Linked DNA regions of Homo sapiens. The protein of the gene in region 4 binds, or shares a complex with, the protein of the main gene of each other region. Each region holds a gene or a part of one and is shown on either strand. Other genes may lie near its edges.

Evidence for each region.
Region 1: PIGY (region 4) and PIGQ share a complex: the UniProt entries of both Homo sapiens proteins name them as parts of the glycosylphosphatidylinositol-N-acetylglucosaminyltransferase (GPI-GnT) complex.
Region 2: PIGY (region 4) and PIGA share a complex: the UniProt entries of both Homo sapiens proteins name them as parts of the glycosylphosphatidylinositol-N-acetylglucosaminyltransferase (GPI-GnT) complex.
Region 3: PIGY (region 4) and PIGP share a complex: the UniProt entries of both Homo sapiens proteins name them as parts of the glycosylphosphatidylinositol-N-acetylglucosaminyltransferase (GPI-GnT) complex.

Annotation. Positions count from the first base shown.
Region 1 is NC_000016.10:572,958-579,980, forward strand, and holds part of PIGQ (phosphatidylinositol N-acetylglucosaminyltransferase subunit Q), read left to right. Parts: intron 1-1,108; 5' UTR 1,109-1,117; coding exon 1,118-1,806; intron 1,807-2,881; coding exon 2,882-3,013; intron 3,014-3,176; coding exon 3,177-3,297; intron 3,298-5,421; coding exon 5,422-5,548; intron 5,549-5,827; coding exon 5,828-5,981; intron 5,982-6,111; coding exon 6,112-6,223; intron 6,224-7,023. UniProt on the Homo sapiens protein: Part of the glycosylphosphatidylinositol-N-acetylglucosaminyltransferase (GPI-GnT) complex that catalyzes the transfer of N-acetylglucosamine from UDP-N-acetylglucosamine to phosphatidylinositol and participates in the first step of GPI biosynthesis.
Region 2 is NC_000023.11:15,318,939-15,325,529, forward strand, and holds the end of PIGA (phosphatidylinositol N-acetylglucosaminyltransferase subunit A), read right to left. Parts: intron 6,215-6,591; coding exon 6,082-6,214; intron 5,934-6,081; coding exon 5,727-5,933; intron 2,835-5,726; coding exon 2,568-2,834; 3' UTR 518-2,567; downstream 1-517. UniProt on the Homo sapiens protein: Catalytic subunit of the glycosylphosphatidylinositol-N-acetylglucosaminyltransferase (GPI-GnT) complex that catalyzes the transfer of N-acetylglucosamine from UDP-N-acetylglucosamine to phosphatidylinositol and participates in the first step of GPI biosynthesis.
Region 3 is NC_000021.9:37,070,049-37,077,801, reverse strand, and holds the start of PIGP (phosphatidylinositol N-acetylglucosaminyltransferase subunit P), read left to right. Parts: upstream 1-4,730; 5' UTR 4,731-4,802; exon of another isoform or gene 4,803-4,954; intron 4,955-4,998; exon of another isoform or gene 4,999-5,214; coding exon of another isoform or gene 5,215-5,286; coding exon 5,287-5,368; intron 5,369-5,491; exon of another isoform or gene 5,492-5,653; coding exon of another isoform or gene 5,654-5,657; intron 5,658-7,753. Other genes in the region: E3 ubiquitin-protein ligase TTC3, read right to left, coding at 4,319-4,373. UniProt on the Homo sapiens protein: Part of the glycosylphosphatidylinositol-N-acetylglucosaminyltransferase (GPI-GnT) complex that catalyzes the transfer of N-acetylglucosamine from UDP-N-acetylglucosamine to phosphatidylinositol and participates in the first step of GPI biosynthesis.
Region 4 is NC_000004.12:88,520,769-88,527,663, reverse strand, and holds PIGY (phosphatidylinositol N-acetylglucosaminyltransferase subunit Y), read left to right. Parts: upstream 1-3,887; 5' UTR 3,888-3,963; coding exon of another isoform or gene 3,964-4,166; intron 4,167-5,634; coding exon of another isoform or gene 5,635-5,776; 5' UTR 5,777-5,874; coding exon 5,875-6,090; 3' UTR 6,091-6,666; downstream 6,667-6,895. Other genes in the region: PYURF (protein preY, mitochondrial precursor), read left to right, coding at 3,964-4,166, 5,635-5,776. UniProt on the Homo sapiens protein: Part of the glycosylphosphatidylinositol-N-acetylglucosaminyltransferase (GPI-GnT) complex that catalyzes the transfer of N-acetylglucosamine from UDP-N-acetylglucosamine to phosphatidylinositol and participates in the first step of GPI biosynthesis.

The DNA.
Region 1 (7,023 bases), on a different chromosome or scaffold from region 4:
CAGGCGAGATGGGGCTTTCTGTGTCTGAGGAAGGCGAGCGGCCCAGCCAGCCGGCCAGTAGTGCCCCCACCGCTAGGGAGTCCTCCTGCCCTGTGGGGCCCCGCCAGGGAAGGCATCAGTGGAGAAGGAGCCCCAGCTGGCTGCATGGCTCCGCAGGGGCCTGTGAGAAAGGGGGAGGAGAGGCCCAGGGCCTGGGAACCGCGGTAGCTCAGGTGGCTTCCTACTCAACAGCCACCTTGGAAGGCTGGTGTCCCTCAGCCTGAGAGTGCAGGATGCAGTTTCTCCACACCTCCGGGACCTGTAAGCCTCTCTCTCCCCGTTTCTAGGCACCCATGTCGTTGGAGAAATATATCCTGGAGAGAAAATGCTCCCTGAGGGAGCCCTGCCCTGGGGTGGCTGTGGGGATGTCAGGGAGGGCCAGGCACTGCCGGGTGCCACCGTGGGCGGGGGTCAGAGTGGAGGCCGAAGCCCTGTGTGCCCTGAGCAACGAGGCAGGTCCTTCCTGCCCCCAGGGAGGGGCTTGTGGGAGGCAGGGACCTTCTGGGGGGCTGCCCGCCGTGCGCACGAGGTAGTTTCCACAGCCCAGCAGCACATCATTTTACATTTTCATCTTTATTCTTGCTTAATACGTGAATCATGGTTTGTCAAGGTTTCAATTGGCGTGACCTTGCTAATGAGATTGTACAGTTCTCCTCGTGCTACACCTTTAAGCACACCTCTCTAATCAGGTTTCTTAAAACTAAGAAGCCTGGAGTTCGGTTCGGCCCCACAGCCGCGTCAGGTGGTGCCGAGGAGGCCGTGCCCTGGGCCGGCCTGGAAATGGGAGGGCAGGCCTGGTGGCTGCATGTGCGTCCTGCCTCGTGCGGGTGGGGCTGAGCTGGGCCTGGGGTGGACTTGGGGCCAGCACTCTGGCTGCCCCTTGGAGAAGCATGGCCCACGCGAGGCGGCAGCCAAGGAGCCCTACGGCGTCCACCACCGAACTTGAAGCTGAGGTGCCCCGACCTGGGGCCCTGTGGCTGCACCTGTCAGGCCGTCTGTGCAACATCCCGCAGCCCACGGTGGGGGGGCAGCAGCAGCTCTGAGCCGAGCCTCTCCTCTTCTCTTCCAGCCTCCCGGCATGGTGCTCAAGGCCTTCTTCCCCACGTGCTGCGTCTCGACGGACAGCGGGCTGCTGGTGGGACGGTGGGTGCCGGAGCAGAGCAGCGCCGTGGTCCTGGCGGTCCTGCACTTTCCCTTCATCCCCATCCAGGTCAAGCAGCTCCTGGCCCAGGTGCGGCAGGCCAGCCAGGTGGGCGTGGCCGTGCTGGGCACCTGGTGCCACTGCCGGCAGGAGCCCGAGGAGAGCCTGGGCCGCTTCCTGGAGAGCCTGGGTGCTGTCTTCCCCCATGAGCCCTGGCTGCGGCTGTGCCGGGAGAGAGGCGGCACGTTCTGGAGCTGCGAGGCCACCCACCGGCAAGCGCCCACTGCCCCCGGTGCCCCTGGTGAGGACCAGGTCATGCTCATCTTCTATGACCAGCGCCAGGTGTTGCTGTCACAGCTACACCTGCCCACCGTCCTGCCCGACCGCCAGGCTGGAGCCACCACTGCCAGCACGGGGGGCCTGGCTGCCGTCTTCGACACGGTAGCACGCAGTGAGGTGCTCTTCCGCAGTGACCGCTTTGATGAGGGCCCCGTGCGGCTGAGCCACTGGCAGTCGGAGGGCGTGGAGGCCAGCATCCTCGCGGAGCTGGCCAGGCGAGCCTCGGGACCCATTTGCCTGCTGTTGGCCAGCCTGCTGTCGCTGGTCTCAGCTGTCAGTGCCTGCCGGTAGGTGTCCCGGGACAGGCAGGTGGCAAAGAGTGGGGTCCCATGAGTGCTGGCCCATCCCTTTGTCTGCAGTGGGCACAGAGGCCCAGATGCGCTCTTCCTGGGCCCGGGCCCCCTCCCACTCCTGCAGCCCGGGCTTTGGCCCCATCCTGCTCTCCCAACCCTCGCCTCTCAGAGGGTGTCCCTCACCCCTGGGGTAGAGCCAGGTCTCTGGGCAGCCTCAGGGATTGCCAGGGGCCCTCCCAGAAGGTGTAGAGGGTGAACCTCAGTGGCTTAGGTCCCTGAAAGAGAAATCAGAAGGTGAGCACAGACATGACTACTGCTGCCTGGGGGTGCTCCTGAGGGCACACAGGCCCGCTGGCCTCCCTGTAGCCCTGCCTGTGCCCCCAGCAGGCCTCTGGACACTGCAGCGCTCATGGGCTGTGGGGGTGTCATCCACTTGCTGGCCCCGTGTGCCTGGGGGAGTGGTCTACAGGCCCTGCTTCTCTCCACAATCACAGGTGCTGCTGGCCAAGGGTCAGTTGAAGCCCAAGGGCCCTGAGGGGCACGGGGGTAGCCCCGAGCTGTGGCTGAGAACAGAGGGCCCCCTTCCACAGGGGACCTCATCTGCCTGGCGGAGGTGCCCCATGGGGAGCAGCTAGGGGTCACCTGCAGTTGCCCCCTGCCTTAGACCCGGGGGTGCATACTCTGGAAGCCTGGGGTGAGAAGCTAGGCCAGCCCAGGAGACCCCGGGCAGCTTTCTGGGCCCTGTCGGCGGGGCGAGGCCCTGGGCCCGTGGGAGTTGCTGCTGGCTGGCAGGCGCTTCTTGGCACCGGCTCTGGGAGCATGTGGTGACCAGGTGGCCCGGGGTCAGCACCTGCGAGGAGGCCAGGCTCCGTGTTAGTCACGTGCACTGTGAGGTGGGCGCGTTGAGCGCTGCCTACCACCACCTGGGCCACCGAGGGCCCCTCCCACCTGCCCCCTGTCCTGCTGAGCTCAGGAGTGTGGCCTGGGTGTTTGTGGTCCCCTGCACAGTGGGGGACGGTGGGAGGAGGATCTGGAGAGGGACACATCACTCCTCTCCACTCCCACGCAGAGTGTTCAAGCTCTGGCCCCTGTCCTTCCTCGGGAGCAAACTCTCCACGTGCGAACAGCTCCGGCACCGGCTGGAGCACCTCACGCTAATCTTCAGTACACGGAAGGCGGAGAACCCTGCCCAGCTGATGAGGTGTGGGCCTGCCCTGGTCTCTGCAGGGCTGGGTGCGTGCCCTCTGGCCCCTTCTCCATCCCCCTCTGCACCACGCTGACCCCTCCGGCCAGGCAGGCCTCCTCCTGCGGCCCCAGGCTGTGCTGGCCACCCTCATGCCGGCCGGGCCGGACCTCCCTTCCAGGAAGGCCAACACGGTGGCCTCTGTGCTGCTGGACGTGGCCCTGGGCCTCATGCTGCTGTCCTGGCTCCACGGGAGAAGCCGCATCGGGCATCTGGCCGACGCCCTCGTTCCTGTGGCTGACGTGAGTGGACTGGGGTGGAGCCCGGTGTCCCGGGTGGGCGTGGGGACCCCTCCTGGGCAGCAGAGCCTTCCCGGGCCAGAGCCACCGCCCCACAAAGCCAGTTCTACCTTCTCCATGCTCTGGAGACACGGCCCTCCCCTGAACCAGAAGCAGGAACTCCAGGGGCGCTGGGGCCTGGGCAGGGCAGGCCTCGCAGGTACACCCCCCTTTCCTTCTGAAGGGGCTGTGTGCAGGAGCCAGCCGGGCTGAGGCTCTGGGGAGCCCGCCTCTCCCTGTGGGCCCAGCGTCCTGGTATCTCCCTTGTGGTCCCTGAGATCAGCGTTGCCCTCCTGGCTCTCTGGGGCCCTCTGCAGAGCCAGGGTCATGAAACCTTTCCTGTCCAGGGAGGCCCATGTGCAGCCCAGCTGGGACTTCCTGCCCTGCCCCTGTGCTGATTCTGTAACTCCTGTGCTGAGAGCCAGAGGCACAGCTTGTCTCCCATCTCCCACCTTCCCTGCATGGTCTGTGCCCCGTTTCCAGCCGGGTGCAGCCCCCTCCTCTGCAGATCTAGTGCATTTCCATGCTGCCTCTGGGCCTTCAGCTTCTCTGTCTTCCTCCCTCAGCACCAAAGCCCCGTCTCTTCCATTAGGAGCTTGTCTTCCTGCTGGGGGTGGTACCTGACTCTTTGGCCCACCCTCGGGCCTCTGTGGAGGCCTCCTTGAGGCCTGACTGGGTGGGTCTTGTGTGGGCTGCAGGTGTGCACTGGGCCTGCTTGTGGCCAGGCCAGGCCTCTGGGGGCAGCATCAGGCACGTCTGTGTGGCTGTGGGGGTGCAGGGAGCTCCAGCCCAGAAGGAAGGAGGGGCGGGGCTGGGGAAGGGGCTCGGCAGCTTTGCCTGTGGTCGTCCGCACCTGCCACCGGCCTACTTTGTCCTAGACCTCCCTTTTGCAAAAGTGCTCAGAAATATAAATATTTAATTTAAAAATGAAAGTCTCTTCCTGCTGCCAAGCTCTTATCCTTTAAATATTAAATAAGCTCTATTTATAAAGAATGTTCTTTTCTCAGCCGGGGGTGGTGGCTCATGCCTGTAATCCCAGCACTTTGGGAGGCCAAGGCGGGCGGATCATGAGGTCAGGAGATCGAGACCATCCTGGCTAACACAGTGAAATCCCGTCTCTACTAAAAATACAAAAAATTAGCCAGGTATGGTGGTGGGCACCTGTAGTCCCAGCTAATTGGGAGGCTGAGGCAAGAGAATGGCGTGAACCCGGGAGGCAGAGCTTGCAGTGAGCCGAGATCTCACCACTGCACTCCAGCCTGGGCGACAAAACAAGACTCCGTCTCAGAAAAAAAAAAAAAAAAAAGTGTTCTTTTCTCCTTCTTGCCAGTCCTGCTGTGGCTGAGGCCTTGGCCCAGGCTTGGAAGGGGCCTGCGCAATGGGCAAGTGGGGGCCAAGGTGTCACTCACTGTCTCCTTAGTGGGGAGGCTGAGGCTCCCTTGGGGTCTGCCCGCTGGGGCACAGCCTCTGGATGCTGAGTTTCTTCCTGGGCGGCCAAGACCCTGCTTCCCTGTTTGCTCTTGGGGGTGCCTGTGCCCTCAACTTGACGCCATCCTCCCTCTGGGGACCTGTCCTCCTGCCTGGTCGCTGTGGCCCTGATGGGCTTGGCACTGTCTCGCTCACCTGTGGTCATCCCGGGCAGCCCCCAGCCTCTGCGATGGGGTGGGGCCTCTGGAGGGGACTGTGTCAGCTGTGGGCTTCCCTGCAGGGCTGGAGCCGAATCAGGGTCTGCCAGGCCTCAGTGCGTCCACGTGTTTGGGGCCGAGGGCTCCAGTGGGTCCTGTGGCCGAGGTAGTGAGAGGGGAGGAAGATGGTAGAGGTGGGTGCAGGCAGGGGGCCACGCGGATGCCCTGTGGGCCCGGCCATGTCACCCAGGCCTGCAGAGAGAGGCCTCCAGACCAGCCTCCTCAGACCCCAATCCCGGAGCCATCTGTGAAGGGGAGCCCGTGTGCTGTCCACGCTAGGACGCGGTAGACCCTGGAGGAGGGAAGGCTGGCCAAGGTGGGAGCCCATCACGAAAGAGCCTGGGGAGATGCAGGTGCTGAGCCTGGCTGCCCCCGCCCCAGCGTGGCCCCTGTGTCCCTGCAGCACGTGGCCGAGGAGCTCCAGCATCTGCTGCAGTGGCTGATGGGTGCTCCCGCCGGGCTCAAGATGAACCGTGCACTGGACCAGGTGCTGGGCCGCTTCTTCCTCTACCACATCCACCTGTGGATCAGTGAGTGCAGGGCAGGCGGGGGCCCCAGGGACCCCAGAGCTTGCTGAAGAGGGTAGGGACCCAGCCAGACCCCGCCCCCTGTGCCCCCAACTCTGCTCCCCAGCGTCCTGTGTGTGTGAGGCCTGCTGTGCTCAGCTGAGGGCTGGGGCCTGGGCACCTCCCGAGGGCTGACCCCACCCTGCCAGGCTACACGCACCTCATGTCCTGTGTGTGTGAGGGTTGTGCTGGGCCGAGGGCTGGGGTCTGAGCGCCTCCTGAGGGCCTACCCCACCCTGCCAGGCTACATCCACCTCATGTCCCCCTTCGTGGAGCACATCCTTTGGCACGTGGGCCTCTCGGCCTGCCTGGGCCTGACGGTGGCCCTGTCCCTCCTCTCGGACATTATCGCCCTCCTCACCTTCCACATCTACTGCTTTTACGTCTATGGAGCCAGGTGGGCGTGGGCTTCCCCCTCCCCACCGCCCCCTGGGAGGTGCAGAGGCTCCGGCTGGGCGGGCGTTCGAGTGGGGCGGGGGCGGGGCGGGGCGGGGCGGGGCCGGGCCCGACAGCACTGCGTCCTGTAGGCTGTACTGCCTGAAGATCCATGGCCTGTCCTCACTGTGGCGTCTGTTCCGGGGGAAGAAGTGGAACGTTCTGCGCCAGCGCGTGGACTCCTGTTCCTATGACCTGGACCAGGTATGGGGCAGGGTTCGTGGCTGGAGGGGCTGACTGCCTCCGGCCTGTGCCCGCTGGGCCAGCGCGGTGCTTGGGCACCACAAGGGGGCAGCCTGCTCCCGTCCTGCAGCTGAGGCCGCGCACAGGCCCTGGGAATAGATAAGTCTGCGGTGTGGGCTGCACGTGGGGCTCTGAAGCAGCGCAGAGCTTCCCTGGGCCACAGAGAAGAGACAGACACACAGCCCCGAAGGTGGTGCAGGCACAGGCCCTAGAGGTGCCCCGGGCCCAGAGACTAGAGATGCCCCGGGCCCGGAGACTAGAGGTGCCCCGGGCCCGGAGACTAGAGGTGCCCCGGGCCCGGAGACTAGAGGTGCCCCGGGCCCGGAGACTAGAGGTGCCCCGGGCCCGGAGACTTGAGGTGCCCCGGGCCCGGAGACTAGAGGTGCCCCGGGCCCGGAGACTAGAGGTGCCCCGGGCCCGGAGACTAGAGGTGCCCCGGGCCCGGAGACTAGAGGTGCCCCGGGCCCGGAGACTTGAGGTGCCCCGGGCCCGGAGACTAGAGGTGCCCCGGGCCCGGAGACTTGAGGTGCCCCGGGCCCGGAGACTAGAGGTGCCCCGGGCCCGGAGACTAGAGGTGCCCCGGGCCCGGAGACTTGAGGTGCCCCGGGCCCGGAGACTAGAGGTGCCCGGGCTCGGAGACTAGAGTTGCCCGGGCCCGTCTGCTGCTCACACTTGCCGCAGCCGCTGGATGCTGCCATGCAGAGCATGTTCTTGGTGACTGTGTGGCCACGCACCGTCTTGGGTGGTCTGGCCCCCACCTG
Region 2 (6,591 bases), on a different chromosome or scaffold from region 4:
CAAGATCGTGCCACTGCACTCCAGCCTGGGCAACAAGAGCGAAACTCCGTCTCAAAAATATATAAATAAATAAATGAAAATACCCTAATAGCTGATGAGCTAAAAAAAAAAGAAAGAAAGAAAGAAAGAAAATCACAAGTCTCATAATGTTTTAAGAAAGTTTACAAATTTGTGTTGGGCAAAGTAGAAAGCATAATTATGTAGCTCACATACACAGTATAGTTTGTAGATATTTTCCTTGTCTCACGTGATAATGCTAGGGCAATGAAAAACAAGGGCTTATTTGGGTAAGGAAACAAAGGCACAATTGAACTCGCTATTCCATGAGTGAGAGAGAGAAGATATTCTAGAAACAAAAAATGACAGAGTAATTCATCGCCCAAAGGGTATTTCTTGTTTTACTAATAGACCAAGCAACACATCCAAATTGCACTGAAAAAGAATGTGTCGGGGGCAGGGATAGCCTGTTCCACTAGTAAATAATAGTCTGTTCATAAAATAAGACAAACTCAGAAAATTATCAAAATGTCATTCTGGTCTTTATTTTTGGACATGTAGCATGTTTTAACAAATCAGTTTTTCATAGGCAACCTTTTGAAACATCAAAAGAAATACAATATATTTTTCACAAATTTCTCATCACTGTAAATTCACTTTAAAATCAACTAAGTAGCAGGGTAGAGCAATGTGTTTCCATATACCGACCAGTGCAAACTGACAGTTACAATTAAGGTATCCAGAAAGGTTGAAAATTAAGATTTACGTGAAACAAATTTACTTCCATTTGTTAAAAAAAAGAAAAATAATAATTTGCAAATCACATGTTTTACAGGCAAAGGCAACTAACTTTAGATCTTATTTCCATCTCAAATAAATGACAGTTTAAGAATTAAATGACAATTTAAAAAAATTAAGCAAAAATATAAGGAAAAAATGGTGGCATGCCTCTAAAACCTGTTGAATAGAATAATGGCCAAATATTACAGTTTCTCACTTTCCTATGAATACTGGCACTGTTTATTTCATGTTTATATGTGAGTTTCTATGCATAAAAATCCCAGTAAGACTGAATAGTTTAAAGATCAGTCCATTTTTCTCCAACAAAACCCCTAACTTCTAGATTTTAAAAATTGCACTCTTGCTTTTGCATTTTAGTACAAACAAAACACAAATATATTTCTTTTATATCAGTGCAACCAGTTAATAGGCATGTTATTTTTTAAAAAGTAATAAATTTTGTGAATGTTGTCATTTTTAAAAATCCTATACAGAATCACAACACTGTCAGAATCTATGTAGTGCACCCACAAGTGCCTTATTGTTTTGAATTCACAGTCCTTTTCTCACAAAAACCTTAAGAGTTCAAAGAATTCATAATACACACCATGTGGATAATTTGGGGTTAAAAAACCCATGGCTCTGGGCAACAACAATGACAGTTAATAACATCCACCCACAAAGACTGTTTCTAAAATTTTCAACTTAGTTTGCTATAAATAAACCATTCTGAAGTAAAGCCTTTTGCACACTGACAATACTTATCAGACATCAGCGAGGCCACAGTGAAGGGGAGTGACTTACATTAAAAGGACAGGGTAGCAGCTGGTTTTGGGATGGCACACCTCGTACATTCTGCTCAGAAAACACGAAGGCATTTATAGAAAACTCAATTATGCACTGAAAAATGTGGAGGGTTTCTCTGCACTATCAACAGTGATATCGGTCCCCAGTATTTAAAAAGCAAAAAATACCTTCACAAACACAACTGAAGATGGAGGCTCTACCTAGGAGAATGCATACAACAGGAACAAAGTACTAGTAGTGTGTCGGTGATTTTTTTCCTGGCATTAACTGGCATGAGCATTTTTGGCATGTTGGATATTGATCTCATATCAACCACAATTATGATGAAGTAAGCCATTTGAATGGTAAACAAAGAGTGAATGCACCCCTGGTCCTTAATGGCGGGAAGCATCTAGTTCAACATTCTACACAGAGCAGGGGTTCAAAATGTGCTGGTAACTGATGGACTATCTTACTCAAGGAACCTGTTAATTACATGTAACACCTACTGAGTGAACCTAATAAATGTTCAAAGACATGATTTAGATTCCTAATAAATGTATATGAACATGATATAAAACAGTTCATATAATTGTTGTAGTTCCCCTAAAGAAAACTTGTAAACATCTGGTGAGTGTCTAATGGTGTTACATTAAAAACTGGCCAAAAAATGCCCAGAAAACGTTTGGCCCTTCAGCACCCAAAGCTCTCAAAATATAATGTTAAAACATCTCTGCTACAGGGATTTCAGTAGTCTGAAAAATTGCATACCTGAGTGGCTTAAATGTTCTCTCCTAAATTTTAAATAAGTGCAAGAAGTTTCTACACTCAGGAATTGCATACATTTTTATCTTTCCTCAACAGAAAATATTGAATGATATAGAGGTAGCATAACTTACTAAATTAACTCTAAAAAAACAAAAACCCCCCAAAAGCAAGGTTATTTTCCATAGTCTTTATAGAACTATTACAAATGTTTAAAATCTTACAATCTAGGCTTCCTTCTACCTGGTTTCAGATATCTCATTATTCTCACCCCCTCTTTTACTGTGAGAATAGTTATTAGTCCAGGCACCCCGTGGCCCAGTGGCATCTATTGCAACATCAATGATAGAATCTGGAGTCATCCATCTCAAGAAAATGAGGAAGAGGAAGTTGAAAACTGCCAACAAAGCAAAGATGTAGCCTGTTACTGGGCCGCAGTGAGAAATAAGTCTGTCCAGTCGTTTGTCCATTGGCAACACAGCTTCCACTGATACCCGGTCATATACCTGGAGGGAGAGAAGCCAAGTGTGAGCACTTTCACCCATCACCCCATCACCTGTCCCATGATAAACAATGACCCGATCCTGCAGGAACATTTTATAAACAAATACAAACAAAAGTTGCTTGTGTTTTGTTGTTGTTGTCATAGTAATGATATCCTTAATGAACTTAATCACGATAATTATTGCCATTTGATTCAAAACTTATTGGGTACTTATTCTGGGCAAGACACCGGGCTAGAGGCTGTGTGATACAAAGAATAAGCCACAGTTCCTCTCCCCTAGGGAGTCACCATCAATTTTAGCCAACTACTAGAATTCCAAAGTCCCGCAAAGTCTGAACAGCTTTTGGGGTCACCACTGTAGGGTCAATATTTAATTCAGCAGTGACTTCAGCAGTACTGAAGCAGGATTTGCCTTTGAAGATTCCTTGACTAAGCTGAGATGCTCTCACCGGCATCTGGCAGACATCAACCACAAGCAGAGAGCTACAATCTAGCATACTTCTGGGAACACAGAGCCTCCTCTTTCAACAGCCACATGAGGCTGTACATGTTGCTGAGCATGGATGGTGAGGACATGCAGAAGCATTTCATGGATTTCAAATAAAAGAAGATAAAGAGATGGGGGAAATTTCAGTAGATAGTATAGGTCAAATGCTGGCAAATGAAATAACGTTTTTTGCTGAGCAAGTAGGTGGCTTGCTTTTTAAAACACTGCTAAGTACTAAGCTCTAAAATATCAAAAAACGAAGATCTTTAAACATACTTGTTCAGAACACATCAAATGGGCCAACATTCATATTTTGTAATTTGAGTATTACTTGTGCTTAGTCTCATATATTAGACCTTTAAACCGTCTCCTTTTGAACTCAAGGAAGTTATAACATGCAGTGCATGTTGTACAGGTCAACAGCCCTTGAAAGGTACGGCATGTTTTCATCGAGCTCTTTTACCCTGAGGACATTCTGAATACAAACATTTTAATCAGAATTATGTTGAGAATTATGCTGAGACTGGTGAATTGCAATTGAAGAAGTATGTTTACAGCATGAACTCCAAATTAATTTCATGATCGATTTCCTAAATAGCACAGTTAAACTAAGAAGGAGGAGTTGAAATGAATTAAAATGTCATAGGGTTAAAAGAGTAACTACAAACTGACTTTTTTGTCCAGCTTTATTTCAGGTCAATTAATCTACTTATAGTTTTAAGTGATAAAATAACAATTTACTATTATGAAGAGAATGTTAGCGATGACAATCCATTATAGGCAAGGATTTACTTTTTTCTAAAAGTGTATTATAAATCACCATAGAATTAAAAAAAATACAGATGCTGTACTATTACTTTAACCAAAAGAAAAATGTGGTTACCAAAAAAATCCCAATTAGCCCCTTTACTATATGCTGACAAACCGTCACCACAGTTCTTTCCCTGTTAACTTATTACCTACAGTGGCTCAGGCTTCTGGGGTTTATACGATGTCAATGAAGAAGGTCAAGTCACAACTTAACAGTGCCATGGTTCTCAAAGGGAGTGGAGATCAGGATGGTATCATCAAAATAACCTGTCTGACCAAATATCCCTGCCAATTATACCCCCAATTCTATCTCTGCTCCTAAAGGATAACACTGGAATCTAGGGAGTGGTTGGGGAGGCAGGGGGACATCAAGATGGAGTAGAGAGAGTCTGAAAAGGCTGCCCGGGGACTCTGACATGTACTCCCAACAGGTAAGCACTAGACTCCAACTTTCCATGTTTCATATGGGAGAGATAGTACAAGACTTGTAGAAGGTCAGAATGTCTCAAAATGCTTCAGTCAAAAATGTTTGACTGTCGCAAACATCTCATGTTTCAATGGAAAATGTATAAGACAATTTTTAGAGATAAGTTTTTAGAACTTCCATTCACATATGAGTTCATCTTATATACTGGAATTCATCATTCAAACCAAGTAAGAAAGCCTTACAGTAAAGAGCTATTCTCCTCAGCTCCAACTTGCTATCTACTCTAGGCTAAAAACTCATTGCTCCACTGAATATCACGTTGGTAGCATTACTCTAAACTACTACCTTCTCCATGTTCCACCTGGTTATCTTTCTGGTTCACAATTTCTACATACTAAGAAGCTGAGTTGTTTCTGTTCAGCTTGTTACATGGTAATAAGAGGCATGAGGCAGAGAACATCATGAAAAGGACGTAAAGGATGAAACTGAGAATGAAAGCAGTCCCTAATTCAAATTCAGGAAGCATTTCCCACAACTGTAATCTCCTACCTAAGGGTGTTAATCTATTTCCTATACCTGTCCTTTTGGAAATTCTCTGTTGCTGCTTTTTATTTGTGATTTTTCCCACGTTTGTCACGTACATTTTGAATTCTAACTTACTATGTTCTCAATCAGCCCAAAGATGCAAAAATCCTTTTCCTGGAGAAAATCACAGTAGTTAGCAAAAGGGCTACAAGAGGTTTAGGAAGTAGCCTGAATTAAATATTCACAAGTTATAAAGTTGCTGCAATCAGCAAAACCATGCATTTCCTAATAGAGATGTTTGCTTTAGAATTATCAACAGCTTCAAGAAAATATCTAAGAGTAGATTTAATACTCGTCTTGTCTCTACTCATTGTGACTTTTAGAAAATTTTGTAACTTCTTTATGCCCAGTTTAATGAGGGGGCTAGACTGTATTACTGCTATTTTCAAATGTCAAACGCAATAATTTGACCAGACACTTAGCCCGGTGTGTGTACCAAAATCTGTTTCTTTTCACCTGGAAGAGATTTCATCAACTTAAGCAATAGAACAAAAATGGTAAACATCTATGTAAGAAAAAGCAAATGTGTACGTGAAACATCAAGTAAGAGTTCAGACACAATCTTTTCTCAGCATGTGACATACCTTTTCAGTTCTTTCTGCAACATTCCTCCAGGTGTAGAAAGTCTTTACTATGTTATGGATGTTTTCTGGAGCTGGCAATGTCCCTGACTTCAGTTGGAAAATAGCCTTTTCCAATCCTTCACACAAAGATTTTACTGAAGGCTCACATAAAATAATAAGGTTTTCTGGAAGCACCTCAGGAATTCCACCAACTCTGGTACTTACAACCTTAAAAAGAAAGAAAGAACACATACTCCACCATAATCATACCTCAGGAAGATCAACAAAACCAGTTAAAACATTATTATGGAATGTGTCTCATTATTTTTCAAAATACACAGAAATCCCAACCATGAATGCCCTCAAAGCTTTTTACCTGTAAACCACAACTGGCTGCTTCCACGATCGCCATGCAGAATGCTTCAGTAAGGGAGGTATTCAGAAAAATATGTCCTTGAACTAAGACATTTCTAACATCCTTGTGTTCTAAAGCTCCCAAAAGACGCACCCTGATTTTTTAAATGAGAGGGGAAGAAAGGAGTGAAAACTCATGCTACAAAAGAAATTTAATTTATAAACCAAGTCTGCTATTTATATTACACTTAAATTCTTATTGCTGCTAATGTTCTCCACCTCAAGATTAGTATCACCAAACACTGATCTAATAGAAACAGCCTTATAAAGCAGTTGGGTTAAAACTCATACAGCGAACATTATTTCTAACTTTTGTTACACATATCAAACTTTATCTTCTCCAAAACTAGTCTGTATGTAATAATATTAATAAACTTTGATAATTTAATGTTAAAGTGCCATTTGTAAACAGGAAAATGGCCTTTTTATTAAAATTGATGCTTTACACGTACAAGCCTTGTGTTGTGTAAGT
Region 3 (7,753 bases), on a different chromosome or scaffold from region 4:
CGATGTTACCAGTTTTAAAAGACAACTCATCAGAACAAAGGGTAAAATATATGACTAGATATTTCATAAAAAGGAAACAAAGACAGTTCATAAACATACAAAAGATGCTCAATCTCATTAATAACAAAAAATGCAAATTAAAACCACAATGATGCATCATTTCATACCCATTCCATTGGCAAATATTAAGTCTGACAATAACAAGTGTTGGAGAGGTTGTAGATCAACTGTAACTCTTACACACTGTTGATCAAAGTATATAAACAGACAAAACTGCTGGCCAAAGTACAAACTGATACAACCCCTTCAGAAAGTAATCTGACATTATTTTGTAAAGCTGATCATTCATACCCCTTGATCTAGCAATCCCATTTCTAGCAAACAGCTTACTATAGTGATACGGCAGTATTTCTTTCTCTTTTCTTTTTCTTTTGCTGCTGAACAAATTAACATGGTGGTATTTCAACCTTTTTTTTTTGCTCGCAAACCACCAAAAGTGCTTTTTAAAATTGCATACCCTTTACCCATTAAGATGACATTTAAAAAATATCACCATAAGATTAAATAATTGCAAAGGGTGAATTTCTAGAACATCACAGTAACATTTTAAAGTAAAACTGATTATCTCATTCTTTTAAATGTATAATTATTACCAGCATATGGTTGGCCAAAAAATATACCCTGATAACATAAAAAAAAAAGCAACTTTATTGGAAATATCTCTCTTAAGGAAATGGATGGGGAAGTGCCAGGATTAAAAGAGGCTTTCCCTAACACTATAGTGGTATTTTAAATTATCCCTTTGTAGGCCAGGCGCGGTGGCCTGTAATCCCAGCACTTTGGGAGGCCGAGTCGGGCAGATCACCTGAGGTCAGGAGTTCAAGACGTGCCTAGCCAACATGGTGAAATCCCGTCTCTACTAAAAATACAAAATTAGCCGGGTGTGGTGGTGCGCGCCTGTAATCCCAGCTACTCAGAGGCTGAGGCAAGAGAATCACTTGAACTTGGGAGGCAGAGGTTGCAGTGAGCCGAGATCGTGCCATTGCACTCCAGCCTGGGCAAAAAGAGCAAAACTTCACTCAAAAAAAAAAAAAAAAAAAAAAAAAATCCCTTTGTTTTCCCCAAGGGAGTTTTCCCCCTTTGGGCAATGCCATAGTAAGATTCCACAAGAACCTGTGGTTTGCCTGTCTTATGTAAAGTGCAATGTTAGAAACACAAGGTAAGAAAGTAGCACTAGCAGGAGGCCTCAGGCATTACCATTTTTAGGAAAGAGTACCTATGGAATGTAATGATCTAGAAACTGATTCATTAACATCATTTGTACCCACACATTCCTTAGCAAATCTTCATTACTCCTCTGGGGCTCATATACCCCAGTGTGAAAATTAGAAAAATTCTTACAACTGTGAACCAAAAAGTATATAACTTCATAACAGCAAAACCTAGAAACAACCAAAATGCCCATTAACAGAAGAATGCATACACTGTGTTATATTCACACTTGGAATATTACACAGCAGTGAAAATTAATGACTTACATCTATACCCAATATTAGTAACTCAGAAACATAACATCAAGTGAAATAAGCAAGTCCCAGGAAACTATACCCAATATGATTTTTTCCACTCAAAAACAACAGAAACCATACAATACATTTTTGAGGGATGTATACATATCTGATAAAATTATTTTTAAAAACAAGGCATAATATACACAATTCAGGATGGTAGTCACCTCTGGAAGTAAGCACATTCAATACTGGTCATTTTGATTATTGGATTGAGTGGTGAATTCATAGGTGTTCATTTTATTGTTCTGCTATACAGCTTGCATATGTTTTACATATATTTTGAATTTATCAAATACTACAATAAAATGGAGAGGAAAAGAAAAATTTTTTAAACATTCATCATAAGAAAAAAAATACTTTTAATTAAATCACCTCACCTGCCACTAAAGAGGTACATATTTAACATATCATGGAAATTCTATCTATACATCAATCATAGGATCTGACATACATTAGGTATACAACAAATGTTCATTGGAATTAATCTTATGAGAACCAAAGGAGATAAAGACTAAGCCAATTAGCTATAAGAGATAAATCCATAGGCTGACACAGGGCTACAAGAGAAGCCAAGGTGGCTACAAGCAAATTTAGCAGCAACCAAAAGTCATAAGGAAGCTGGTCAGTAAAGAGATGGCAAAAATGTAAAGTCTCATAACATAAAGTGTTAGCAGGGTTGTGAGGAAATTGTGTTCTCACTCAACACCAGTGACAGTGAAAATTGGTACAACCACTTCGAGAGCTTCTGTGATACTTGGTTAAATTGAAGACGCACATAGCCTACAATCCGGCAAATCTACTACTTAGGTGTACTTCCTACAGAAACTTCCAAATGTGTGCACAAGCAGACAAGTACAAAGATATTTATTGCAGGACTGTTTTTAAGAGTCAAAAACTGAAACAAGTTCAAAGTCTATCAACAGGGGAATGTATAAATAAATATGGTATATTCATACAACGCAATTCTATACCAGCAATTAAAATGAATGAACCAAAGATAACACAATCATTCAATTTGTTCATATATAAACCTCAAAATATGATGCTGAGCAAAAAAAAAAAAAGCAAGTTGCAAAAAGGCATGTATATTTTAATGCCATTAAAGTTTAAAAACAAACAATAATATATATTGTGTATGGATTCACCTTGATCAAAGTATAAAATATGCAAAGTAAAGATATACACAAACCTCAACGCAGTGGCTATCTCTAGAAAAGGAGGGGAAGGAACTGAGAGCAATTTTATTTCTTTAAAAAAAAAGAGTATCTGAAGTAAATTTGGCAAAAGATTAAATAATCACGTCTGTAAAATCTGAATCATGGATTGGTTAGCTCCCCCTCTGTATTTGATATCTGAAATATTCCAAAAATTAAAAGAAAAAAAGGAAAATTAGACAATAAGAAAATTGGGCAGAACAAAGACACCAAAACGCAGCCCTTGAGCGCAGAGCACGAAACCTTGAGCAATCGGAGCAGTAGCTGGGTCTCTAAGGGGTTTGAAGTTTCTTACCCTAGGTATCCTTATACTATATCCCATTTTCCTTAGGATAAATCGCAAATTTCTTGCAACAAAAAATGTCCTAACTAGAGTCGTAGTTATAAGGAAAAGGCTCTCTCCGGAGGAGTAAAATCTGTAAAATTTCTACCTTGTTTCCCTCGCCAGGATCTTGGGCAAAATGGAAAGAGATTTAGGTGAATGCCATAAAATACTCTATAAACCATTAAATATCATCAAGAACGCCTAAGGACCGCATCGCCCAGTAGGAGAGTGCATATATTTTGAAAGGTCTCTGCAACTGAGGGGGTTTTGGCGTCCAGGGCGCCACTGGAAAAGGCACGGCGCACTGGTACCAGCCCAAATTCACCTACGTCTCGGCTTCATTTTTTATCTTTGATCCCCCTATTCTGTCTCCTGAACAGGCTGGCTGAAGAGGCCACACTGGCAGCGTCAACACTGCGGAGCAGCTGGCCAGACTCGATCCTGTCCACCCCCCTTCCCATTAGCGTCTGTGGGAGAGAATGCTCAGAAAGAGGCGCGGGGGCGAGGGGAGCGGCGAGGTTACCCCCCTCCTGGGTCCGTTCCGTGGGGACAGGCCCTGGACTGGACTGCCAGTTCACACGAAAACAGGTGGCAACAGAGTCGTGACACGCACACACAGCAAGGGGTGTGCACGAACGTTCACGCTCACCAACGAAACCTGCACACAAGAGATACCCACTCGACAGAATTAAATCCGCACACAAGAGATCACGCACTCAACAGGACCCATGCGCAGACACTCTGCGTCACTCGGAGACACGCAAGGACGCACACTTGCGCGAGCAAGGCTCTAGGCGGGGGTCGCAATTGCAGAAGGCGCGGCCACGCGCGCTAGGGGACGCGCAGCCCACAGACAGGGGCAGTAACACAAAGGGGGGCCACCTGCAAGGCCGAGAGCGCCCACGCAGCCGCCAGGGAGCGCGGACACCGACACAAAAGGGGCGACGAGGCGACACGCGAGCGCCTCCACCCAGCGGAGGTGTCAGCCACGCACCGGCCGAGGCACGGGCAGCGGGGGGTTGCGCACAAAGGGACTACTCACACCCTCGCACCGGCATCCCAGGGCCTCGCTCGCGAAGGGGCACCAGACCAAGGGGGCAAACCCACTGGGGTAGGCAATGGCGGCCACACCCCCTCATCGCGCGGGACCCAACCCATGCAGACACAGTAGGCACCTCAGCGAGGGACGCGAGGAGACGCGCACACACCCACACTCACCACACACCCACGGAGGGGGTGTGGAAGGCCCCGCTCCCCCGGCATCTCGGCTGCAGCGGGACAAGGTGACACATCCGGGAGCCCGGCAGCGCGCCGGGTGTGCACTCACCCGGGCCCGCCGCCCGCGAGCCTCGGACGCGGGCAGCAGCAGCAGCAGCCGCCGCCGCCGCCGCCGCCACCTCCGGCCCTCCACGTCAGCCGACGGCGGGAGGGAGCGGGTGGCGGCGTTGAAGCGAGGTGCGTCACGTGGGCTGGCAGCGCGCGTGCGCAGTCGCACCCCACCGCCCCCTCCTTCGCCGTCGCGAGCCGCGGGATCACGCCCGCCCCCGCGCTCGCTGGCTCCCACCCGGGGAGGGTCGTTGTGCGCCTGCGCCAGGGTGGGGGTTGCCGTCGCGCCTAGGCCTTTCCCTCAGGTTTTCCTCTTCCCCACTGCGGCTCCCCAGTCGGCGCTTGCGCGGAGAACTCAGCGCTGAGGTGGCCGAGGTGTCGGGAGGGGCCTGGGTGGGCGTATGAAGGACCCGAGGTCGAGGGCCCCCCCATACCCCGCCTCGAATGAGAAATAGAAGTCTCCACGAATGGGCAGGGCCCGGGGCCTGGGCGCCGCGACCTAGTAGGCCCGCATGCTGGTGGGCGCCGCGCGAGCCTTGTTCCCTGCCCTCCCCTCCCACAGGGAGGCCACGCTTGCAGAGCTGGAGCGCGCGTCTATCGCCCCAGAACCCCCCTCCCTGCCCTATCCTCCGCCACCCCTTCTGTTGCGGGGCGCGCGCCAGCCTGGGTGTCTGTATGCGCTCGAGGCGGGGGCGCGGGTTGCGGACGGAGGCGCGGGAGGCGGTTCTGCGCGGCGGGGGCCGTACCCGCGGCGGAGCGAGGAGGCGAGAATGGATCAATGGTGCCACGGAGCACATCGCTGACGCTGATTGTGTTCCTTTTCCACAGATTGTCTAAAGCCCCAGGAAAAATGGTGGAAAATTCACCGTCGCCATTGCCAGAAAGAGCGATTTATGGCTTTGTTCTTTTCTTAAGCTCCCAATTTGGCTTCAGTAAGTACTTTCCTGATGGATGGCCAGGGGCTTTTTCTGGCGTTCAGTGACAAGGGAAGAATACATTGGTTAGACTGTGCACACATGAACTGTTGATTCTTTCTCCCTATGTCTCTTTTTAAGAAAATCTGAAGGGATCTCGTGTTTGCTGAGTGTTCCGTGTGCCAGCACTAGCCTAGGAGGTTTTAGTCTCTACAAATATTTATACAGCACCAGACGCGATGGCAAAGTGGATAAAGCCTGGTCCCTGCCCTTAAGGAGGTCGTGGTCTTGTGGAGGAGACAGATGGGTAAATCTACAGTTAATGCTCAGTGTGATGAGTGTCAGGGAGCACGGTGGAGAGACATTGAAACCAGACTGGAAAGTCAAGGCTTTCTACAGAGGCCTTTCCCCCTGGCACTGATGCTGATTAGGAAAGAGTAAGAGGGAGGGAAGAAGTGGAAAGGCCTTGAATGAGGGCGTGAGAGGGTTTGGACCCGAGGAGCTTGTGATGTCACCAGTGTGCCCTGCGGGATCTGGGGAACAGGAGAAGTAGGCCAGAGAAGTCGGGTTGAAAGGTGTGTCGTTTGCGTCCTGGATCTCCCTTAATTTAACCCCATAACATTCCATTTTACAGATAAGGAGACTGATGCTCACTAAGACACTAATATGCCCACTCACACAGCAAGTCCCAAGTCTCTCCCCAAAATGATTTGAGAATTTTGAGGCACACAAAAGGGAGAAAATTGAGTGCCCGTGATCCAACGTTCTGCAACTGTTTGGAAACCAGGAAAGTGGAGGAGTGGTAGTACTTCTGAACCCTAACTAAAATATATCAGCCTGCACCATCAGCACAGCTTGCAGATGAATGTAATGGCCAGGCTATTAAAACTGAAGTGAAGTGAAGAAGTTACAACTGAGTTCGAATTCTGACTCCTCCACAGATTAGCCATGTGAGCTGGGACCCTCAGCAAATTTTTTGAGCCTCAGGTTCCTTATCTGTAAAAGGGTAGTGATAATGATGGTTATTAAATGCTTATGACGCATGAAACAGTTCTATGGGGTAGGTTCTGTTATTACTGTCCTTTAAAGATGAGCATCCTGTGGTTTCAGTAACTTGCTCAAGATTGCAAAGCTACTAAATAAAAGCCTTCTAAATTTGAACCCAAATACACTGGCTGACTTCACTCTGCTGCCTCTTCTGACTGTTGTGAGGATTAACGGGGGTAATTTATGTAAAGCACGTAAAATAATGCCTAGGAACAGTTAGGGACTTAATAAGTGTTAGCTACTGATGTTATTGTTAGCACTTTTGTAAATCCTTGTTCAAAGAGTATGTCAAGGATTAGAAGCTATATGAATAAATAAAAGCAATCACTTTAAGGCTTAAATTCTGGCCGGCCTGGTGGCTCACGCCTGTAATCCCGGCACTTTGGGTGGCCGAGGCAGGCAGATCATCTGAGGTCGGGAGTTTGAGACCAGCCAGACCAACATGGAAAAACCCTGTCTCTACTAAAAATACAAAATTAGCCGGGATGGTGGCGCATGCCTGTAACTCCAGCTACTCGGGAGGCTGAGGCAGGAGAATCGCTTGAACCCGGGAGGCGGAGGTTGCCGTGAGCTGAGATTGCACTTTTGCACTCCAGCCTGGGCAACGAGCGAAACTGTCTCAAAACAAAATTAAATTCCATCATACCCACAACCAAAAAGTAATTCAAGTATTTATTGGTGCTTACCATGTGCCAGGCACTGTTACAGGCCAGGAAGGACCAAAACAGCCAAAAATGCCCTGCTTTGAGTCTTCATTCTCATGCCGGGGGGAGATAGTCAATGGGCAAGTTAAATAAGAAAAACGTATATAGTATCAGGTGATAACGTACTATGGGGAGAAATTAAGCAAAGGGAAGGAGGATACGAAGTGGAAGGAGGGCCTTCTAATGTGCTTCTATGTCATCTTTTATTACTCATTCGTGAGCACTTGTAACAATGTAGTGAAAATACCAATTTTCTCTATTCACCACTAGATTTTAAGTTTAGGGAGGGCAGAAGCCATCTCTTTTGGATTCAATATTGTGTCTCACACACCTGACATACAGAATTCTGTAATACATATTTGTTAAGAAAAGAATGCATCATCACTGATGTAGTAGGTAGTTAAAATTTATCTTTGCCGCTTACCTTGGGTAGGTGATGTATCCTTTCTAAGCTTCCATTTCCTCATCATTTAAAATTGCATACTTGCCTTGGAGGATTGTCTTGGAGGATTATCTTAATGCATACAGAATGCTTGGAACTGTGCTTAACCCACAGTGAGTGCTCAGAACTTAGCCATTGTTGTTATCGTGGGATAACAGTAAAGAGTGCCGAGATTTCGGATTGAGGGAAATAACATTGTACTCTGGGAGA
Region 4 (6,895 bases):
GGCATGAGGGAGGGGAGCTTATGGAAGAGCACTCCCAAACTGTTGTGGATCAGCGGGTACATCCCCATAACTGCAGCAGCCACAGAACCAAAAGAGCAAGTTGGGCTGTGCGTGGTAGCTCACGCCTGTAATCCCAGGACTTTGGGAGGCTGAGGCGGGAGGATCACTTGAGCCCAGGAGTTCAAGACCAGCCTGGGCAACATAGTGAGACCCTGACTTTACAAAAAAAATTTTAGAAATTAGCCAGGTGTGGTGGTGCATGTGTGTGCCTATGGTCCCAGCTACTCAGGAAGCTGAGGTGGGAGGATTGTTTGAGCTCAGAAGGTGAAGGCTGCAGTCAGCTATGATGGAGCCACTGCACTCCAGCCTGGGAGATAGAGCAAGATCCTGTCTCAAAAAAAAAAAAAAGAAAGAAAGAGAGAAAGTGAGAGAGAGTAAGAAAGAAAGAAAGAAAAGAAAGAAAGACAGGACATACTTCCATAATTTCAAGCTACTTGTGCCCATGCTGGGATATTCTGGTCCTTTTGCAGGCACTAGTCCTCAGCCCTTCAGACAGAATTTGTGATTATCCTTCAGATGGCCAAAACAAGGCTGGTAACATTCATGTCTAGAGTTATTTCAAAACTCCTTTGATGTTTGAAACTAGCATTACTACTTTACTATTGAGGATAATTTTTTAATATGTTTATTGACCAACTGTATTTTCTTTTTTGCGAATTTTTCTTTTCAAATATTTTGTCCATTTATCTATTGGAAACTTGATTTTAATAAACTCATCATTAAAATTTATTAATAGGACTTTTATGATTTTTGTTTTTAAAATAAATGTTGGGCTGGGCACAGTGGCTTATGCCTGTAATCCTAGCACTTTGGGAGGCCAAGGTGGGTGGACTGCTTGAGCTCAGGAGTTCCAGACCAGCCTGGGCAACATGAAACACCATCTCTACAAAAAATACAAAAATTAGCTGGGTGTGGTGGCATGCACCTGTATTCCCAGCTACCTGGAGGCTGACATGCCAGGATTGCTTGAGTCTGGGAGGTCAAGGCTGCAGTGAGTCACGACTGCACCACTGTACTCCAGCCTGGATGACACAGAGAGAATCTGTCTCAAGAAAATAAAATAAAAATAAAAAATAAGTGTTGTCAAACTAAGAAACAATTGGCAAAATGAAAGTAAGTCTTTGTAATCACAGAAAGAAAAGATCAAGCAGAGATAAATGTTAGTTCAAATACTAAATGATGCCATCTAGTGGAAAATTTATTTTGACTCATTTCTTTGGATTGCAGGTTCACAAATTTCAATGCCCCCAAATTTGGAATTGACAGGCTCTGTTAAAATACATAGTCCAGCCCCTCTTCTGCCTAGAGATTTCTAACTTCATGTGTGTGATAATCCAAGAATTGTGTTTCAATAGTATCCATATTGGAAATTAGAAAAATTCCATTTCAGTTAAAAAGAGTGTCCCAGAAGTACCTTGTGCTTTCCCTTTCCATCAGAATGTTTACTAGTTTCACCATAATAAATAATTTTATTGCTAAACATTCTTTAAATGTGTTAGCCCCTGTGCTGTTTTACTTGAATTGTTTTATTTAGTCTGTTCAAACACTGTAAGTTACATACTATTATTATTGTATTTCACAAGTGAGAAGGTTGAGGGTGAGAACTTAAGTAGCTTCTCCAAGATCACACAGCTATATTGTATCTGAGCCCAGAAACCATCAGGTTATTGTGCACAGGCCTATGTGACACGAAAGGTCAGTCATGTGAATAGTGAAAAGGGACTAACTTTTAAAAGACCAGTTCCAGTCCCATGATCCTATCCTATCATCTACATTTAGCTTAGTATACTACAGGCAGAAATGAATTGTATTTCTTCATTACTAAGGGCTATTTAGGGACATATTGCTTTGATATGTTGCAACTTAATACACACATGGTGATAGTCATACATTCATATGTTCCTTAAATATTGGTTGTTGATTTCTGGTGTTATAAATTTGAGGATGTTTTCAATACTTTGCTGTTACTCTCTATTCTTCCCCTAAATAAAGTAAACTGAACTGCCTCAAACCCTCTATGTGGAGGCAAACTGAAACTAATTTATTTATAACTGGTTAGAAAACCCAGTTGATAGAGATCTGTCAGCCAAGCTAGCTGAGGCTTAAGCATGGGTGCCTTCCCCTACCCAACAAGCGCCAAGGGTTGGGCCCACTCAGCGCTTGCAGAAGTCAAGCGCTGTTTCTCCTTAAGCAGAAACTTATCTTTCCTACAGCTCACCCCTTCCCTTGAGCCCAAAGTATCAACTGACTTCAACTGAAAAATTAATTCCTGCTACTGCCCTAGTCGGAAATAGTGTGAAGGTGACATAGGAACTTTACAGTAGTTTCCCTTGAGGGTATGTCCCGATAACTGCCCTATTCTCTAGTCCGTTAGTAACTCTAATAACGGAAAGTTATGACTGTGAAAGATTGCTTTGTGAGGGAAGGAAGGTGAGGCAACCAGAGACTTTCATTATCTCTTAAATATCTATCCAGTAGAAGTGTTTCCTTTTTGGTATCCTATAAACTACATTAACCTTAGAAAATCTTCTGAGCATTAGTGAACAAAGAACATCAAAAAATAAACTGTTTTTTTTAAAAAAAACAGGATGGCCCAAAAAACAAACAAAAAATTAGGATGAACATATAAACATTTGTCAGTTTATTTTTACATTGGAGTGGAAGAGAAATTTGAAAATATAAACATATTTTTGGATTCTGTACTTCCAGCTCCAGGAACTCAAAGTGTGAAATGATAATGCCCAGTGATGCAAAAAAAAAGTTCAGGTTGATATTCAGCAGAACGGAGGGAAAAAATGGATGACTAATGAGAATCTTTGAGTCTTCGGACATGGAAAAACTAGATGAACTAAAAATAAAAATAGACAACATTAATGGAGCATTAATTTGTGCCAGGCACTTTTCTAAATGTTCTTCGAATGCACAATCACATTTATGCCCTACCTACAAGGTAGGTACAATTATTAGTCTTATACAGATAAGGAAAATGAGCAGTTAAGTCATTTGCCAAAGTCATCCAGCTACTAATTGTGGACAGGGAACCAAGCTGTCAGGCCCCAGAGCCCAAGTTCCCATCTACTACACTGTAAGAAAGAGATCTAACATGGTCACTTTCTTGGAGAGTGGGAAGCAAACCTGGGATACAAATTCACTGAATGGATCACCCACTCATTGAATGGATCTTTAACAGGCAGATCACATCTGCCTGTTACACAGCTATTTAGGCCCCTTGCGGCCTCCAAGCTCATTTATAGAAGTAAATTAGCTGTGCTTTATTACGCAAATACTTCACAATGACTGGGTCTCAGGCAGGAAGAATTTATATATTTTGGAGGGTCAGAGGCCTAGGCCCTTCCTTCCAGGTTCTCACTTTTTTTAATGAGAGAGAAAAAAGCCAAACAAGGTTACAGAAACTAATGGTATAGTAAAGATGTACATGAAACAAATGAGCGCTTTCAATACATCCATGACAATACATTCGGTACAATACATAACAGTGTGTTTGAAACTTCACTTGGAGGTAACCACGTAGGTCCAAGCCTAACTCCCTACAACTCTGAGGCCTGGCCACTGGCTTCCTAGCATCCTTGGACAGGCCCCGGTGAAAACCCAGACACCTTGACTTAAACACTGGTTTAGTTTGTAGTCTGGTAAGGCGGCGGGGCACTCACCAGAGGCCTCTGCCCTGGGGCTGTCCTCCGGACTATAGATGACGCCCGTGGGAAAAGCAGTCGGAGCAGAAGCACCCTCGGAACCAAAGCGCCCGCCCCGCCTACTCCTCGGCAGCGTTTCCTGGAGGACCAGGGGGCGGGGCCTGCCCGGCTGGCCTGGACGAACGGGAAGCCGGGAGCTCGGCCACGGGTGGCGAGGCTGCGGTGAGGCCTGGTCTCCGGCTGCCAGACCATGCTGAGTGGAGCACGCTGCAGGCTCGCCTCAGCGCTGCGGGGAACGCGCGCGCCGCCGTCCGCGGTCGCCCGTAGGTGCCTGCACGCGTCGGGGTCGCGGCCTTTGGCCGACCGGGGCAAGAAGACTGAGGAGCCGCCCCGCGACTTCGATCCGGCGCTGCTGGAGTTCCTGGTGTGCCCGCTCTCCAAGAAGCCGCTCAGGTAACTCGCTGGCCTTGGCCCTTCCTTTGCAGCCTCCCGGTGGGCGGAAAGGGAGCGGTGGACCGCGGCCTCTTGCAGCCACTGGGGCCTTGTAGGTCGGTCAGGTACTCTCCGCTGCCACATTCTGGACTCTGTCCTCGCCGGGCGCACAGCGGGCAGGACGGGGGAGACCGGAGGCCAGGGGAGCTGCGTCCCACATCTCCCAGAACGCAACGCCAGCCTGCGGGAATGGCTCGAAGCGTTTTAGGGTTCGCGACCGGCTGCGCATTGCAATCACCCGGGGACCGTTTTAAAAATGCCGATTCCCCGACAGCCCCCAAGACGGGCAGACTTGGAATGCTCGCGGGATGGGACCTGAACATTTGTATTTTCTTTTCCTTTTTTTTTTTCCTTTTAAGAGACAGGGTGCCCCCTACGTTGCCCAGACTGGCCTAGAACTCCCGCCTCAGCCTCCTCAGGAGTCGAGAGACAGGCGCCGCCCCCACGCCCAGCTTATCTGTGTTCTTAAACGGTCCCTAAATGATTTCTAATGTACCACCAGGTTTATGAACCACTGCGATTCAGGACAAGTCCGAAGCCTTCCGGTTTTTAAGCCAAGATAATGAAAAGTATTGTTGTACCCTCCAGATTCTTGTGAAAGTGTCTTGTACAACTGGTGCCTGACAATCTTAAGCAATTCAGCTGTGTTTGCTGCCCAGTGGCTCTTAGTTGTGGCCTAGCAGGTTTCGTAGAAGCCTCTTTAACTAGTTTTTGGGAAGACAGCTCTACAGTTTCCAAGCTACCAAAATTGAATATTGACAACACTAACGCTAGTATTACAAATCGCATAAACACCAAAATGTTATCAGTGGTTATCTTTGAATGGTAGATTGCTAGCAATTTTTCGTATTTCTTTTTCCCGTAATAAACATATTATTCAATTTTCTCGAACCTTGAAATTATCATTTGATTTACGTTTATAACTAGCTCACTGCAGACTTAGTGCTTTCGAAAGTTTCTTCATTTCTGCCCTCTCACCTTTTCCAGTGATTTCCTTCTAATGGATTAGTTAAGTTTCTCTACTTAGCATTTATTCTAAAATGAAGAAGTTGATTTTTCTCTAGTGTTTATTCCAGTAGTAAATTAACAGGGATGGTTTGGGGGTTGACCAAAGTAATGAAGGAATATTTGGATAAGAGAGGGGGATCTTTTCTGACTAGTATGAAAAAAAATTAAGGAATAACTTGTGAATAAGGTGAAAAAGAGAATATGAGAGAAACTACTAAAATGGGAATAATTATAGATTGTAAGAGAATTTTTCTAAGATAAAAGGTTGAATTGGCTATTGTTGCTTTTAGAATTAAAGAAGACTATTCTGGGATTAACTCCGTACCAAAAATTGGATAAATGGTGGTATTTGTTGAAAATCAGGCTCTTCAAGCATTTTATTTTCCCACAACTCATTTTGTTCTTTTTTTTTCCACCTCAGATATGAAGCATCAACAAACGAATTGATTAATGAAGAGTTGGGAATAGCTTATCCAATCATTGATGGGATCCCTAATATGATACCACAGGCAGCTAGGATGACACGTCAAAGTAAGAAGCAAGAAGAAGTGGAGCAGCGCTAGTTCATAATTTAAAAAAATTAAAAAAACGCAACAGCCAACTTTTCTTAATACCATATACCTTTTAAAACACAGTGGCAGGTAATAAGTGGAAGAGAAGAATGTTTCTGTCTCTTCCTACGTTGACTGTTCTTATTCCACTGGTTTCTTTAGCAGGACTGTTCTACTCAGCCTCTGTGGAAGAAAACTTCCCACAGGGCTGCACTAGCACAGCCAGCCTTTGCTTTTACAGCCTGCTCTTGCCTATTACCATACCAGTGTATGTATTCTTCCACCTTTGGACTTGGATGGGTATTAAACTCTTCAGGCATAATTGATGCAACTAGAGTCAATATGCTGTATATATTAATGATAGCTCTTGGGCATCGATCTCTGAAAGCTCAAATGGATGGAATTTAGTTTGCGGGAAAGAGGCTTTGCTTTGCGCATATCAGGCTTAGGACTGTGGGAGGCTTAAGTTGCAGATGCTTCTTTTATTGTACTCTTGTTCTGCCCTTGTTTTTTGAAGGCTCTGACTTATAACTGCTGTATCAGAAGAAACATTTTGACAGTGTCTTGGTTGGAGATGAACATCCCTAATTGACATGTGATGACTATTTCTTATTCCATTCATCTAAGAGTCATTGAAATTTTGTTTTGCTTGTTTGTTTAGCTTCAAGGTCTTTGGTAAAGTCACATGTTAAGGATGACTGAAATAATTCCAAAGGAGTGATGTTGGAATAGTCCCTCTAAGGGAGAGAAATGCATTTGAACGAATGTGATATAAAACCACATAATCAAATAGAAACTTCATGTACTTACAAAAACTGAGTTTGTAAAATTACCTTCATTTCTTTGACATTAAATGCTTATATTAGCAATAAACATGTTGACACTTTCCTATAAAAAATAAACCAGTTTGCAGTAGTCGTTTGTTTGTTTGGTCACAGAAGTGTTAATGATACTAAGGGAAGTTGTAAAACTGCACTAAATGTAGTTGTGTTTAGAGAGGTACTTAATACCCAAAACAGAATCATTTCCTGGGAAAGTGAGGGGTGGGAAGACTTGCAAGTAGTGGATTGTACCCTGTTGAGCTTAGAGCCATATTTGAGCCACATTTCAGTTTATTTTCCCAGGATGCCG